Linked DNA regions of Homo sapiens. The protein of the gene in region 2 purifies or fractionates together with the protein of the main gene of each other region. This does not show direct contact. Each region holds a gene or a part of one and is shown on either strand. Other genes may lie near its edges.

Evidence for each region.
Region 1: the proteins of ZNF547 (region 2) and ARPC4-TTLL3 purify together in Homo sapiens (affinity purification with mass spectrometry, with the first as the bait; one large-scale study listed by BioGRID). This does not show direct contact.
Region 3: the proteins of ZNF547 (region 2) and ZYG11A purify together in Homo sapiens (affinity purification with mass spectrometry; one large-scale study listed by BioGRID and IntAct). This does not show direct contact.
Region 4: the proteins of ZNF547 (region 2) and PTPN5 purify together in Homo sapiens (affinity purification with mass spectrometry; one large-scale study listed by BioGRID and IntAct). This does not show direct contact.

The regions. Positions count from the first base shown.
Region 1 is NC_000003.12:9,830,253-9,833,797, forward strand, and holds part of ARPC4-TTLL3 (ARPC4-TTLL3 fusion protein), read left to right. Parts: intron 1-2,851; coding exon of another isoform or gene 2,852-3,284; intron 3,285-3,545. Other genes in the region: tubulin monoglycylase TTLL3, read left to right, coding at 2,852-2,993.
Region 2 is NC_000019.10:57,366,316-57,370,206, forward strand, and holds part of ZNF547 (zinc finger protein 547), read left to right. Parts: intron 1-2,228; 5' UTR 2,229-2,240; coding exon 2,241-2,264; intron 2,265-3,891. UniProt on the Homo sapiens protein: May be involved in transcriptional regulation.
Region 3 is NC_000001.11:52,852,442-52,856,332, forward strand, and holds part of ZYG11A (protein zyg-11 homolog A), read left to right. Parts: intron 1-2,023; coding exon 2,024-2,189; intron 2,190-3,891. UniProt on the Homo sapiens protein: Probably acts as a target recruitment subunit in an E3 ubiquitin ligase complex ZYGA-CUL2-elongin BC.
Region 4 is NC_000011.10:18,781,777-18,785,667, reverse strand, and holds part of PTPN5 (tyrosine-protein phosphatase non-receptor type 5), read left to right. Parts: intron 1-3,891. UniProt on the Homo sapiens protein: May regulate the activity of several effector molecules involved in synaptic plasticity and neuronal cell survival, including MAPKs, Src family kinases and NMDA receptors.

The DNA.
Region 1 (3,545 bases), on a different chromosome or scaffold from region 2:
TGCCTGAATGTATAGTAATAGGCAATTACTGGTAGCTACTATTATTAGTAGTATTATAATTATTTCACTCGTCTTGCTCCAAAAAGAGATTGGAGTCTACTTGTAAAATAGAACAGCATTTTAAAAAATCAGTCAGAAAATTGATTGCAAGGCTTTCTGAGTTCTGGATAGAATTTCTTGTGGCAGTTTAAGTGGCTTCTGATTAGCCTCCGGTTTCTGTCAAGGTTTGGTTACAGGAAGAGAACGTACTGATCACATGACCTAAGTGACCTCGCCTTTGTTACAGTTGTTATTGATCATTTCTTAAATTAATATATTGGCGTTTTGGTTTCAAAAAATGTAAACGGGGAAATACATGGGCAGGAAAATATGAGCAAGCTGAGGGAAAAGGTGCCATTGTAGTGCAGTGCTCCCAATGCCAGTGCCCAGGCCAGAAGCATCTGAAAGCTTCTAAAGGTATGGATGTGAGGAGGCTCCACCCCCAGAGATTGACCCAAAATGTCTAGCTTGGGGAGGAGACTATGTATATCTGCATTTTTCAAATGCCCCCCAAATATCTTTTTTTTTTGAGACGGGGTCTTGCTCTGTTGCCTAGGCTGGAGTGCAGTGGCACCATCTCGGCTCACTGCAAGCTGCGCCTCCCGGGTTCAAGCGCTTTTCCTGCCTCCGCCCCCTGAGTAGCTGGGACTACAGGTGCCTGCCACCATGCCCGGCTAATTTTTTGTATTTTAGTAGAGATGGGGTTTCACCATGTTAGCCAGGATGGTCTCGATCTCCTGACCTCGTGATTTGCCCGCCTCGGCCTCCCAAAATGCTAGGATTACTGGCATGAGCCACCGCGCCAAGCCCTCTAAATGTCTTTTATTGCTGATTTGTTCTTGTTTTTGTTTTTAGGCCAGCACATAGTAAAGGCTTATACCTTGCACTGTTTTTTTTTGTCTCTTTTCATCTAGGCCAGCCCCAGTGCCTTTTGACCCCATAGTTTTGATCTTTTGAGGGGCCAGGCGGGTTGTTTTGTAGAACTGTCCCACATTCTGGATTTATCTGATTGTTTCCTTATGGTGTGATTTACCTTGGTCTTCTGTTAGCTGATTGTCTCAGGAACTAGAAGTTAGGTCAAATAGTTTGATGAGGTTAAACATTTTTCCCAAGAGCACTTCAGAGGTGATGCCGCGTACCTCATGTGGCATCACAAGGCACATCCTGTGAGAGTGTCTCACAGTTAGTGCTGCTGAGTTTGACTGTGGGTTACAGTGGTGGCTACCAGATTCTCTCCATTATAAGCTACATCTCCCCTTTGCAATTAATTTTTCTGTAAGGTGCTGTGTTGGCTCTGTCCAGATTACACATTTTCCTGTCATCCTTTCATCTAATTGTTTTGATACCAGTTTTGATTATTGCCTATTTTATTAGAGTTGCAAAATGGCAAATGTCTAATTCTGTTGTTCCTTCTGCATTTATTAGCTGAGATTCTTCTGTAAAGATGAACTTTCCCTCATCATCTGGGGCTACTTGGGAGTGCTGATAGCTACATTTTTATTTGATTTTTTTTTTTTTTTTTTTTTAGACAGAGTCTCACTCTGCCACCCAGGCTGGAGTGCAGTGGTGCTAGCTCGGCTCACTGCAACCTCCGCCTCCCGGATTCAAGTGATTCTCCTCAGATCCCGAGTAGCTGGGATTACAGGCGCCCACCATGGCCGGCTAATTTTTGTGTTTTTAGTAGAGATGGGGTTTCGCCATGTTGGCCAGGCTGGTCTCCAATTCCTGACCTCAGCTGATCCGCCTGTCTTGGCCTCCCAGAGAGCCACCGCGCCCGGCAATAGCTGCATTTTTTTTTTTTTTTTTTTTTTGAGACGGAGTTTCGCTCTTTTCACCCAGGCTGGAGTACAATGGTGCGATCTCGGCTCACTGCAACTTCTGTCTCCTGGGTTCAAGCAATTCTCCTGCCTCGACCTCCCGAGTAGCTGGGATTACAGGTGCCTGCCACCATGACCTGCTAATTTTTTTGTATTTTTAGTAGAGACAGGGTTTGGTTATGTTGGCCAGGCTGATCTCGAACTCTTGACCTCAAGTGATCTGCCAACCTTAGCCTCCCAAAGCTCTGGGATTACAGGTGTGACCACCATGCCCGGCCAATAGCTGTATTTTTAACAAGCTCCAAGTAATTCTGATGTTTAGATAGATTCTGATCAGGATCCTTCAGTGGCACAGAAGATACCTCCAACTGGCTCCAGGTTGCTAGCAAGGCACAGGGAGCTCTCCTGGAGCCCAGCTGAGGGCAGGACATACAGCTTGGCCTGATAGGAACTGAGAGTTGTAAGGGAGTCCCTCTCCTGGACCCTTCTCTCTGCCTTCCTCTGCATATTCGTTACTTCATTCTCTCCACAGACTGTCTTCTTTAAGGTTCTTAGTTTCTGCTACCCCATAACCTGGATTCACACGAGGCTCTAGGCAGGCTCCAAACCTCTTACTTGTCTGGGTGGCGTAACTCAAATTCTCTGTGCAGAGAATCTGATTGGCTCAGCTCAGGAAGCTGTCCACCAGCAGTGGCCTGTGCAGTGGAGCCACACGCATTCCAGCAGGGGCTGGGGGCAGCTTAGGAGGGAAATGTGGCTGAGGGGTGCTGGTGGGACATGGCTAGGATTCCCCCTTCCTCTGGGCTAGCAATTCCTGGAGCTCTGTGACTCTAGGTACTGACTCAGAGGTGGGCTTTCCATTTCTCAGCTCAGAAACGCCTCTTTGACCAGGTGCCTCAGAAAGTAATTCCACCCATCTCTACTCTGGGTCCCGCTGGGCCAAGGATTCCAGTACCACTGACTGAGTGGGCCTTGTCTCCTCTTCTTGCCCACAGCCTGCTGTGGAGGTGCCTCAATATGTGGGCATCCGGCTCCTGGTAGAGGGCTTCACCATCAAGAAGCCCATGGCGATGTGTCATCGGCGGATGGGGGTCCGCCCAGCAGTCCCTCTGCTGACCCAGCGAGGCTCTGGGGAAGGCAAGGACTCGGGGACCCCTACCCACAGGTCAGCTTCTAGGAAAGGCACTGGGGCCAGGAGCCTGGGGCACAGTGAGAAGCCAGTCTCCACTGCCACCACTTCAGCCCCCGGAAAGGGGAAGAAAGGCAAGGCGAAAAGGGCCACAGCCCTGGTCTGCCCCAATCTCTGGGAGTGGGATGCCCCCAGCACCAGGATGGGCTGCATTTTCACCATGACCTTTTCTAGTGGGGACAGGCAACCCCACCACTTGAACAGATTGCCACTGAGTCCGAAGAACCCCCGGGCCCTGGGTAAGACCATTCCCCCAAAACACCCGAGTGTTCCAAGGCGATTTATTCCTGCTCTCCAGGCCCCTCCCAACCACCTGGATCAGCCACCCCACCAAAGAGCCACCAGTAGCAAGTAAAAGCCACTACTCACAAAGTATTGTTTAAAAATACACAGCCAAATTAGCTGGGCACGGTGGTGTGAGCCTGTGGTCCAGGCTACTCGCGAGGCTAATGAGGATCGCTTGAGCCCGGGAGGTTAAGGCTGCAGTGAGTTATGATCGC
Region 2 (3,891 bases):
GTTCAAGCAGTTCTCCTTCCGCCTCCAGAGTAGCTGGGATTACAGGCATACGCCTGGCTAATTTTTGTATTTTTAGTAGAGACAGGGTTTCGCCATTTTGGCCAGGCTGGTCTTGAACTCCTGACCTCAGGTTATCTGCCTGCCTCGGCCTCCCGGAGTGCTGGGATTACAGGTGTGAGCCACTGCGCCTGGCTGGGAATAAGCTTTCGACTTGCCCAATTCAGATAAATTGTTTTTTTTTTTTTTTTTTTTGACGTGGAGTTTTGCTCTGTCGTCCAGGCTGGAGTGCAGTGGCGCTTGGCTCACTGCAACCTCTGCCTCCTGACTTCAAGCGATTCTCCTGCCTCAGCCTCCCAAAGTGCTGGGATTACAGGTGTGAGCCACCATACCCGGCCCAGATAGGTTGATCTTATAACAATCCAGAAACAAATGTCATAGTCAAGATTTGGTAGATAGATTTAAAACTAAAATATTCTGCCATTGGAAGTGAAATGTCATAGCACATACGTGGACGTTATGCATTTAGAGATGTTATAAAAATGTATTGGCAGTATACATAGCACTACTCAAGAAGCCAAAGAAACACTTGTGCAGTGCTAAGTGTCACATGTCTGCTTCTGCCAGAGGCTAGGAATAGTGATCTTGCTATAATGTGAGAACCTGAATCATGTTTGTAAAATAGGAGGCTGGGAGCAGTTCCAGGCCACAGTGAAGTGTGTTGCTTCTGTCACTTTATATTCTTATATTTCCTTTCCCTCAGACAATCAACTGTTGATGCCTGTACTTGTGAAAAGTTGTAAGGCAATTTTTAGGGTTGTTGTCAAAGAAAAGCTTGGATTACATTAACATTTGTACTCAGCCTTTTAGGCAATACACCAGAGGGGGCTGGGAATTGTCTGTTTGTTCCTATGATAAGTAGATCTTACTGTAAAATAGTAAATGTCCATTGAAAAGCAAGTAACACAACCTGTGCTAACTGGGAGCACTTGAACAATTTTGTTCCATTCTGAATAACTTTTCAGCAAGTAATTCTAAGCTTTGTCTTATATCCTTGTGTAAAATTGCTACCTTCATTTTTACCCTATTTGATTTCTTAAATGGTTTGTTCAAGAAAAAAAAAAAAAAAAAAAAGAATAGAGGGTGTAGATTGGACCGGGTCCTGAGGATCCAATTTGGTAGGGAAGTCTAAAGGTCATTGCCTGCAAGCTATGTGGTGAGGGAGGAGAGAGCTGATACTTGGGGTTCACACCATAGGTGGAGCCATAAGCCAGATGCTTACTTTAGAAAGGCGCAGACCTGCCATAGGAAGGATTTTGTCCTCTGCCTAGAAAAAGGGAGGCGTGGGTGGGATAAGGAATGGGCTTGGGATGGAGACTAAGGTTTGAGATGGTTTATATTCTGCACCTACAGGCTTGGCTGACCCTCAGGGCCACTCTTTGTGGGAAAAGAAAAAAGTTATCCAGGCTAGTGGAGCAGCTGGGTTCTAAACTAGGGCACTGCTTTTTCCCCTTCTCCACATATCAAGGCAAGATTGGATGATCTACTGCCCCAGTCAAGGTCTGCCAGCAAGCTCCCCTCAGAGCCTTATGTAACAGGCAGGCCTGGTTGCAGAGGACCAGTAGCTGACCTACCTGCTCAGCCCTTCCCTACAACTCATTAAGAATATATGAAACACTTATTGGTATAAGCACTAACCAGTGTCCTTCTAAATGTGTACACATAGGCAGTTAGAAGTGAAGCTATTCATTGAGTTAAATTCCTGCAAACACTACATAATTGATTTGACCCAAATTTGCCTATAATTATCAACATACCATGGAAAATTTTAGTATCCTCTAAAATTTTAAAAGCTAAAAATATACACCTCAGTTTTTGAAATTCTACTACATCATTTATACTGAAAACATATAGTAAACCATTAATCCAAGAACAGTAATAGCTGATATATATGATGAGCAACGAGTGTTTGACACCGGTAAGAGTCCTATGAGGTGGGAGCCATTCTTACAACCTATTTACAGATGAGAGCACTGAAGCTCCAGCAGGTTCAGTTCTTTTCTAGAGTCACAGTGCTGCTAAGAGCCAACAGTGAAGTCGGAGGAGCTGAGTTTATACAATCAACTTGAGATCAGTTTGCTTTAGGGTAAGGAAGAAGAGATGGTGGTCCAACTCTGCCTGTAAGATCTTCCCATCGTTGCCCATTTCTCACGGTTTCCCTCTTCCTTCAGGGTCCCCTGGCGATGGCAGAAATGAACCCTGCACAGGTGAGTGGAGTGTTTTCTACCTTTCACCTACCAGTTATCTCATAGATGGTTTTGGCACCTCCATGTAAAGAAAAGTGGTGTCCAGAGACTCTCTTTCTGTCTTTCTCCCTCTCTTATGTCTGAAAAGTGAGTGATTCCACCAGTTCTAGTATCTTAAATTAGGTCTGGGATTTTTGTTTGATTGTTTTAAGTTTACTGTGACACCTTACCTGGATGGCCCTGGATTATGTGGAGTGGCTCCCATTTTTGACAGTTGACGTGGTAACATCTGTCAGAGTGTCATGGGCACAAGATTAAGAATGTTTCAGTGTTTAGAGGAGAGACTGAACTGGATTTTTAGGGAACTGCAAGTGTCTGTTATATCGGATAGGAATAGGGAGCAGAGTGGGAGGTGGCTAGAGACACACAAACATCAGGCCTGGAATGACAGCCTAGGTCCTGGGTCTCTAATCTAAGGGAGGTGGTAGATGGGGAAGATTTGAAGCAGAAGAGGGCAGTGATAGGACCCTAGCTTAAGGAACTTTCTTTGGCGTCTGAGTGGAGGACAGACTGTGGAGGTGAGGGTAATGGCAGGGAGATCTGAGAGGATGTTCCTGCAGCAGTCTAGGTGGATGTTGGTGGTGACTTGTCAAGAGTAGCGGTGGCTTCAGGATGTGTTTTGAACTGGAGCTGCCCACATTTTATGATGTAGAGAGTGAGGCAGCTGGGGGGGTGGGATAGAAGGGGAATCAGGAGTGGCCCCATGGTTTTTGTTTGGAAGCATAGATGCTCCATCAGCTAAGATGGGAGAAGTCAGCAGTATTAGGAATTTTCAGAGTGAGTGTGAGGAGTCAGTGTTTGTTCAAGCCACAGATGTCTCAGAGACTCCTGGTGGAGGAGTTCAGGTTGGAGACGTCCACACTATGGTGGCTGTCGTATGGACCAGGATGAAGCCATGGATTCAGTTTAGGTGACAGCATCTCTAGGTTATGGTGGCAGTGCTGTTCGAAGACAGAGAATTGGAATGGGGCATGAGAACTGGGTCTCTTACTGGGTAGCTGTGCAGTGGTGGAGGAGTCACTAGACAAATGAGGGAATGGAGTGTTTGTGGGGATGAGTGTATGTGAGATGGTGGGGTATAGGAGTGAGAAAGACTTCTGAAGGAGAGTGGACATGATGGGGTTGCTGAGGAGGGTAATAGGGTGAGGTCGGAGAGTTGCTAAGCATCAGTTGGAATGAGATGAGGATGGGAATTCTATTAGTCTGTTTTCATATTGCTACAAAGAACTACCTGAGACTGGGTACTTTATGAAGAAAAGAAGTTTAATTGACTCACAGTTCTTTTTTTTTTTTTTTTTTTTTTTTGAGATGTGGCCCAGGCTGGAGTGCAGTGGCACAATCTCGGCTCACTGCAATCTCTCCCTGCCAGGTTCAAGCGATTCTTCTGCCTCAGCCTCCTGAATAGCTGGGACGACAGACTCACCCCACTACGCCCAGCTAATTTTTGTATTTTTAGTAGAGATGGGCTTTCACCATGTTGGCCAGGATGGTCTTGATCTCCTGACCTCGTGATCCATCCTCCTCAGCCTCCCAAAGTGTTGGGATTACAGGCGTGAGCCACCGCACCCAGCCCATAGTTCTTCAGGCT
Region 3 (3,891 bases), on a different chromosome or scaffold from region 2:
CACTCTCTGCCTTCTGGGTTCAAGGGATTCTCCTGCCTCAAGGCTCCTGAGTAGGTGGGACTATAGATAGGCATGTGCCACCATGCCTGGCTAATTTTTTATTTTTAGAACAGGGTTTTGCTATGTTGGCCAGGCTGGTCTCAAACTCATGACCTCAAGTGATCCACCCGCCTTGGCCTCCCAAAATGCACGAATTAACAGCTACCACGCTTGGCCAGCGTTTCTATTTTGTAGAGGAGAAAGGCATTTTTTGCCTTATGATAGGGTTATATACCAATAAAACCCTTGTAAATTTAAAATATTCTAAGTTCAAAATGCATTTAAGACACCTAAACTATCAAATATAGGTTAGTCTGGCCTACCTTAAATGTGCTCAGAACTCTTATATTAGCCTACAGTCGAGGAAAATCATCTAACACAAAGCCCATTTCATTATAGTGTTGAATATCTCGTGGAATTTATTGATACTGACAGTGAAAAACAGTGGTCATATGTGTACTCACTGTAAACATACACAGTTGAAAGCACTCTGGGCCTGAAGAATGTTTGAAGCATTGAACTAAAAGTTAATTGCTGGATTATGGAGAAGCTACATCAACAGGGTCACCAGTTGCTCTTCTAAGCATTGGAGCCCATTGACACTTGTTGATGGTTTAGCAGGCATAGTGTTCAAGAAGATATCAAGTATTGGTTGTTTACCCTTGTGATCGTGTGGCTGACTGGGAGCTGCAGCTCACTCTGCTGACCAGCATTGAAAGAGTATCATATTATGTCACTAGCCTGGGAAGAGATCAAAACTCAAAATTTGAAGTATGGTTTCTACTTTATACCGTTGTAATTCCAAAAATCATGAGTCAGGGACTATCTGTACATGCCTTTATAGCCTCACCTTACTGTCAGTTTCTTACACTTTCATAGGACCTTGACTGTATCACTGTTTGAGGTTGTGAACAGTTTTGAGAATAGACACATGATAATCAATGAATACATATTTTTTGAGTGAATGACCATGTAATCTCTGCTTGGAGTGTCCCAAATGTTGCATTGAAATTGTCAGATTTCTTGTTTGTATTCTTCACTAAACTTTAGCTTTAAAGGGACTAGAACCATGTCTTACCCACCTCTGTATTTTCAGTGGCTAGCACAGAACAGGTGATAAGTAAAGGGTTAAGAGAACTTAATATTGGGGCCGGGTGTGGTGGCTCATGCCTGTAATCCAGCACTTGGGGAAGCTGAAGTGGGAGGATCTCTTGATACCATGAGTTTCGAGACTGGCTTGGACAACAAAGTGGGACTCTATAATAAACCTACAAAAAATTAGCTGGGCATGGTGGCATGGGCTTGTAGTCCCAGTTACTCAGGAGGCTGAGTGGAAGGATCACCTGACTGGGGAAGTCAAAGTTGCATTCGGCTGTGATTGTGCCACTGCACTCCAGCCTAGGCGATAGTGAGACCCTGTTTCAAAAAAAAGAAAAAAAGAACTTAATGTTTTTCAAGATACAGTATGTTCTCTCTGACTACGGGTTCAGTATATGTGAATTCAGCCAACTTTGGATGGAAAATATTTGGGGAAAAATACCTGCATCTGTATTGAACATGTACAGACTTTTTTCTTGTCATTATGTAAACAATACAGTATAAAGGATTTATACTGTATTAGTGTTTATAAGTAATTTAGAAATGATTTGTAGTATATGAGAATGTCTGCATAGGTTATATGCAAACCTTACACCATTTTATATAAGGAGACTTGAGCATCTGTGGATACTGGTCAGAGAGTTCTGGAACCAATCTCCTACAGATTTTGAGGGACAGCTGTACAACAGAAAGGACAACAGATTAAATTTTCCATTCAGTTAACAGTAGGAATGAGGTGGTTTCGTTACATATAAATCATTACTAGAGTATGAAGGATGTATCTTCAGATACTCTCATCAAGTGGAATAGGTATGGCATGACCAGTTTTATGTTGAATTGTTGCAGATGTATTCTAACAAAGTTTGTTTGGGGTTTTGTTTGCTAGGAAGAGGCATCTCCCTACACTTTGGTCAACATCTGCCTGAATGTCCTGATTGCTAACCTGGAGAAATTGTGTTCTGAAAGACCTGATGGAACACTGTGCCTTCCGGAGCATTGGAGTTTCCCTCAGGAAGTAGCCGAGCGATTTCTCAGGGTGATGACTTGGCAAGGTAGTGATAAGGCTTCTCTAAAGTCAGCTCTTGCAGTACTTTACTATTTGAAAAGCACTTTTACACACAATTTCTATTGTGATTCTCACAAAGTATTTCCATTTCATTTGTCTGGAAGTTGAGACTCACTCTTTCTGGGATTCCATGATGGAAATTGTCTTCTAGGCTAGCCCTGCTATTGACTTGGTTTTCCACTCTTCACTTACGTAAAGTTATCACTCATCCATCTGCTCTCTAGCTTTGTTTTTTTTTTTGAGACGGATTTTCACCCTTGTCGCCAAGGCTGGAGTGTAGTGGCACAATCTTTGCTCACTGCAGCCTCCGCCTGGGTTTAAGCGATTCTCCTGCCTCAGCCTCCTGAGTAGCTGGGATTACAGGCGCCCACCACACCTGGCTGATTTTTGTATTTTTAGTAGAGATGGGGTTTCACCACTTTGGTCAGGCTGGTCTTGAACTCCTGAGTTCAGATGATCCGTCTGCCTTGGCTTCCCAAAGTGCTGGGATTACAGACATGAGCCACTGTGCCCGGCCTGCTCTCTAGCTTTTTCAAAATGCTCTTGCTGTAGTCTTGTTTACCATTCTTTTCATTATGGTTATGAGTCTTACCTCCCATTGTAGCTGGGCTTAAAGAACTCCACTAAAAAAATAAAGGAAAAAAAGGGCATTTTATTATTTATTTATTTATAACCTGGGATTACAGATGTGAGTCACCATGTCCGGTCATAATTTTTGTATTTTTAGTAGAGATGGGGTTTCACCATGTTGGCCAGGCTGGTCTCAAACTCTTGACCTCAAGTGGTCTGCCTGCCTCGGCCTCCCAAAGTGCTGGGATTACAGGCGTGAGGCACCGTGCCTGGCCCATAATCAATTTTAGAACCTCAAACTTTCCATCACCTCAGAAAGAAACCTTGTGCCCGTTAGATTTTATTTCCCTTTTCCCGCATCCCTCCAGCCCTAAGCAACCACAAGTCTACTTTCCATCTCTATGTATGGATTTGCCTATTCTGAACATTTAATATAAATTAAATCATCCAATATGTGGCCTTGTGTGCCGAACTTTTTTCATTTAGCATGTTTAAGGCTCACATTGTGCAACATGTATATCTGTACTCGTTCCTTTTTATAGTCGCATATTCTACTGTATGGACATACCACATTGTATTTATCTGTTTTTCGGTTGATGGACATTTGTGGTGTTCTCACTTTTGGGCTATTATGAATAATATGCTACCATAAAGATATGTGTACAAATTTTATTTTTAAACTTAAAAAATTTATTCTAAACTTTCTCTGCTCCATATGAATCTGCAGGAATGTGTAAGAGTTTCTATGTGGACATAAGTTTTCATTTCTCTGAGTGAAATTGCTGGATCAAATGGTAACTCATTATCTTTTTGAGGAACTGCCAGACTATTGTTTGTGGCTGTACTATTTTACATTCCCATCAGCAGTGTCCAAGGGTTCTAATTTCTCCACGTTCTCACCAAGACTCATCTGACATTTTGATTATAGCCATCCTAGTGGATGTGAAATAGTATCTGTTGTGCTTTTAATTTGCATTTCTTTAATGACTTATGGTGTTGGTATTTACCTGGTATGCCTCCCTATACTGAATTCCTTGTGGTCACAGGTGTCTGATTACCTTACGTGCCTGTTACATAACATGGAATCTCACCATAGAAGATGTGTAGTAGGCCAGGTG
Region 4 (3,891 bases), on a different chromosome or scaffold from region 2:
GGGCCTCAATGGTGGCAGCATATGGGCATCTGGAATCAATTCTGAAGATTCTTGCAAAACTAACAATGTGTGTATTTCATCATCTGCCTAAAGATGTTGTCTGGTATAAATTATAAATTACAGTTGTGAAAATAACCATACTCCATGCTAGAGAACAAACGTAAGATGAACCATCATTTTATATGCCCTATTCTATGTTTTCTGTAAATCTGTATTTTGTAATAGTTGAAATTAGTCCACATATAGGTTTATAGCCTGCATTTTTCACTTAACATTTTGTCATGACTTCTCTGTTTATACTTGGTTGGCTGACCCCTGCTTTATTTAACTATGTCTTTATTGTTGCACATAGTCAATAATGAGCATCTCCAGGCACATAGCTTTTCCATCTCAGAGTCTCAAAGCATCCATCTGAAGCACCCTCAAGAGATATGATGGGATCAAGGTGGTTAAAGAGGGGTGCAAGGAAAAGAACATGTCGTGGCCCTGGCGTCTGGAGTAGAAAAAGAACAGGGAGCTTGGTGCAGTGGCTCATGCCTGTAATCCCAGCACTTTGGGAGGCTGAGGCAGGGGATCATTTGGGGTCAGGAGTTTGAGACCAGCCTGGCCAACACGGTGAAACTCTGTCCCTAGTAAAAATATAAAAATTAGCCAGGCATGGTGGCGCACACCTGCAGCCCCTCCTACTCAGGAGGCTGAGGCATGAGAATTGCTTGAACCCAGGAGGCAGAGGTTGCAGTGAGCCAAGATAGCGCCGCTGCACTCCAGCCTGGGTGACAGAGTGAGACCCTGTCTCAAAAAGAAAAAAAGAAAAAGAACAGGGAACCCAAGAGTTGGAACCAAGGAGAGGATGGAGAGGAAGATAGATCATGGGCCAGGGGGTCAAGGTCACAGAGCCCTAGGGGTGGCAGAGGGACATGCAGCTCTGTCAGATTTCAGAGGGAAGTCTGTCCTTCCAGTGTTTTGTTTGTTTGGTGTGGGAGGCTTTTATTAAATTGTGGTAAAATACACATAACACGAAATTTACCATTTTAACCAATGTTAACTGTATAATTTTGTGGCGTTAAGTATATTTACAGTGTTATACAACCATCACCACTGTCCATCTCCAGAATCTTTTTATCTTCCCAGACTGAATCGCTGTACTCATTAAATACTAATTCCTCATTCCCATCTCCCCCAGCCTCTGGTGACCTCCGTTCTACTTTCTGTCTCCATAAATTCACCTATTCTAGGTGCCTCGTGTAAGTGGCATCATGTTTGTCTTTTTTTGTCTGGCTTCTTTCACTTAGCCTAATGTTTTCAAGGGTCGTCTCTGTGGTATCATATATCAGAATCTCATTTATTTTCAAAGCTGAATATATTCCATTGTATGGATATACCACATTGTTTGGCCATTCATCTGTTTCCACCTTTTGGCTATTGTGAATAATACGGCTATGAACATTGGTGTGCCAGGATCTGTTTGAGCCCCCGCTTTCAATTCTTTGGGGTATATACCTCGCAGTGGAATTGCTGGATCGTATGATCATTCTGTGTTTCACTTTTTGAGAGGTGCAGGGTGCATTTTTTAAAAAGGATTTTTGTGTGCCCAGTATGAAGACCACTGAGTGAAGTCTTAGGAATAGAGAGTCCAGGAAGAAGCTGTTAATTTAAAAACTAAATGTTGTTTGGGTTCTGCATGGCCATGGAGGTAACAGAGAAGAGAGAAGAGGGAACAGAATACAAATGAGTCTGACTCCGTTTCTGAAGAATTGTTGTGATTTAGAGGCATTGTGGGTGGAAAAAGAAAGCTCTCAGGAGAGATCTTAGTGGGTGGAATTGATTCAAGCATGCAAGTATTTACTGTACCAGGCACTGTGGTGGACACAAGGCCCTCAGCAATCAACACGACCACAAGGACCCTGCCCGCAAGGAGCTTAATGTCTAGTGGAGGTGCCAGAGGAGTCACCTGGCAACAGTGGTCTGTACTGATGCATTCTAGGCTCATCATAAGCACTCACTCTTACTGAGTGCTTACTACATTATCTCAATCTTGGTGACAGTTCAGTGAAGACGGTTTCTGTTATCCTCAATTTGCAGGTGAGGAAACAGAGAGCTTGAGTAACTCTATTTCAGGTACGCACAGCAAGAGTCAGAGCCAGAATTTAAACCTAGGCAGTAACTGTGCTCTGTAGGGCTGTGGGAACACAGGAGAGACACCTGCCCAGGACGGAGGTCAGAGAAGGCTTTCCGAAGGCAGGGGTCAGGTGAGTATTTTCACGCAAGTCAGCTGTGTTCTTCTTTAGCCCATGATGTAAAACAGTGCTTTCCTATAGTAGCAGCAGTAGCGTTCAGCCCTGCTTCCAGGGACTCTAGACACTCAGGGAGACCCCTTCACTGAGACTCCACTTCAGAGGAAGATGATCACTTCTATCATCCTTGCTGCTTATCATGAGGCAGGGAGGCTGGGGGTGAGGCATTGCCATTTCCCACTGCCATCTGCTGCCTCTGCTACTTCCCTAGCTGGTCAGCATCTGAGGTACCTCAGAGGGACCTCCTGGGGCCCCTTCGGGGCAGCATCAGGCCAGTGGGCTAAGAGTTAGGCAAATACGAGGCCTAGGAGTGGCAGTGAAAATCATATATCCACCTTCTGTGCCACATCACTGTCCCAAGATACTCCCACCACCACAGAGCCCTGTCTTACCAAAGTACAGATGTGGCCAAGTCTCTGGTGTTTCCATCCTTCTGTGGCTCCCCATAGCTTGCAGCCGTATTTCTCAACAGGGACCTACTGGCCTTTGGGTGGGAGAGTTCTTTGATGTAAAAGCATCCCTGGCCCCATCTCCTATATATTTGCCTGGAGCACCCTTCAGTCATTATAACAACCAAAAATGCTCACACATGTTCTTCAGGTTTACTTTACAAGCAGTCCAATGTATAGATCTTAAGTGTTCTGTTCAGTGCATTTTGACAACTGCATGAGCTCATATAACCATCACCAAGAGCAAGACTCAGAAGATTTCCATCACCCGCAAAAGTTCAGAGATAACGATTATTCCAATTTCTATCATTGTAGATGGATTTTGTCTGTTCCTAATCGTCATATAAGTGGAATCATATAGTACATGCTCTTTTGTGTCATGAAATAGTTTTTAAGAAGCCAGACGCAGTGGCTCATACCTGTAACCCCAGCACTTTGGAAGGCCAAGACGGGTGGATCATCTGAGGTCAGGAGTTCGAGACCAGCCTAGCCAACATGGTGAAATCCCATCTCTACTAAAAATACAAAAATTAGCTGGGCATGGTGGTACACACCTGTAGTCCCAGCTACTCGGGAGGCTGAGGCAGGAGAATCCCTGGAACCTGGGAGGTGGAGGTTGCAGTGAGCCAAGATCATGCCACTGCACTCAAGCCTGGGTGACAGAACGAGACTCCATCTCCAAAAAAAAAAAAAGACATAGTTTTTGAGATCCATCCACGTTGTCACGTTTTCCCCACTAACCCCCAATACACACACAGATTTCTAAATGCCAACTAGCATGGCAATACCTGCCTCTGTCCCCCTGAGAAAAAATGGCCTGTGAGTCAAAGTTAGTGTGTCTTAGGCTGATTCATGAAGCCGTCTGCTGTGTGACAAGAGTCCCTCTTACGTCTACTCTGTGGCTACACTGAGCTGCCTCGTCTGCCTGGCATACCTTGTGCTTTCACCTCTCCGGGCCTTTGCCCTGCAGTGTTCCCTGCCTGGAATGTCCTCCCTGTATCTGGTGAACTCCTGCTTGTCCTTCGGGTCTCTTCTGTGCAGCTTCCCAGACTCTGTTTTTGTGCCCTCCTGAGTGCTCCCATAAGACAGCCTCAGTGGGCCTTTAATGCATTTCTCACTCAACTCACTAGGCCGAATGCTGGGTGGAG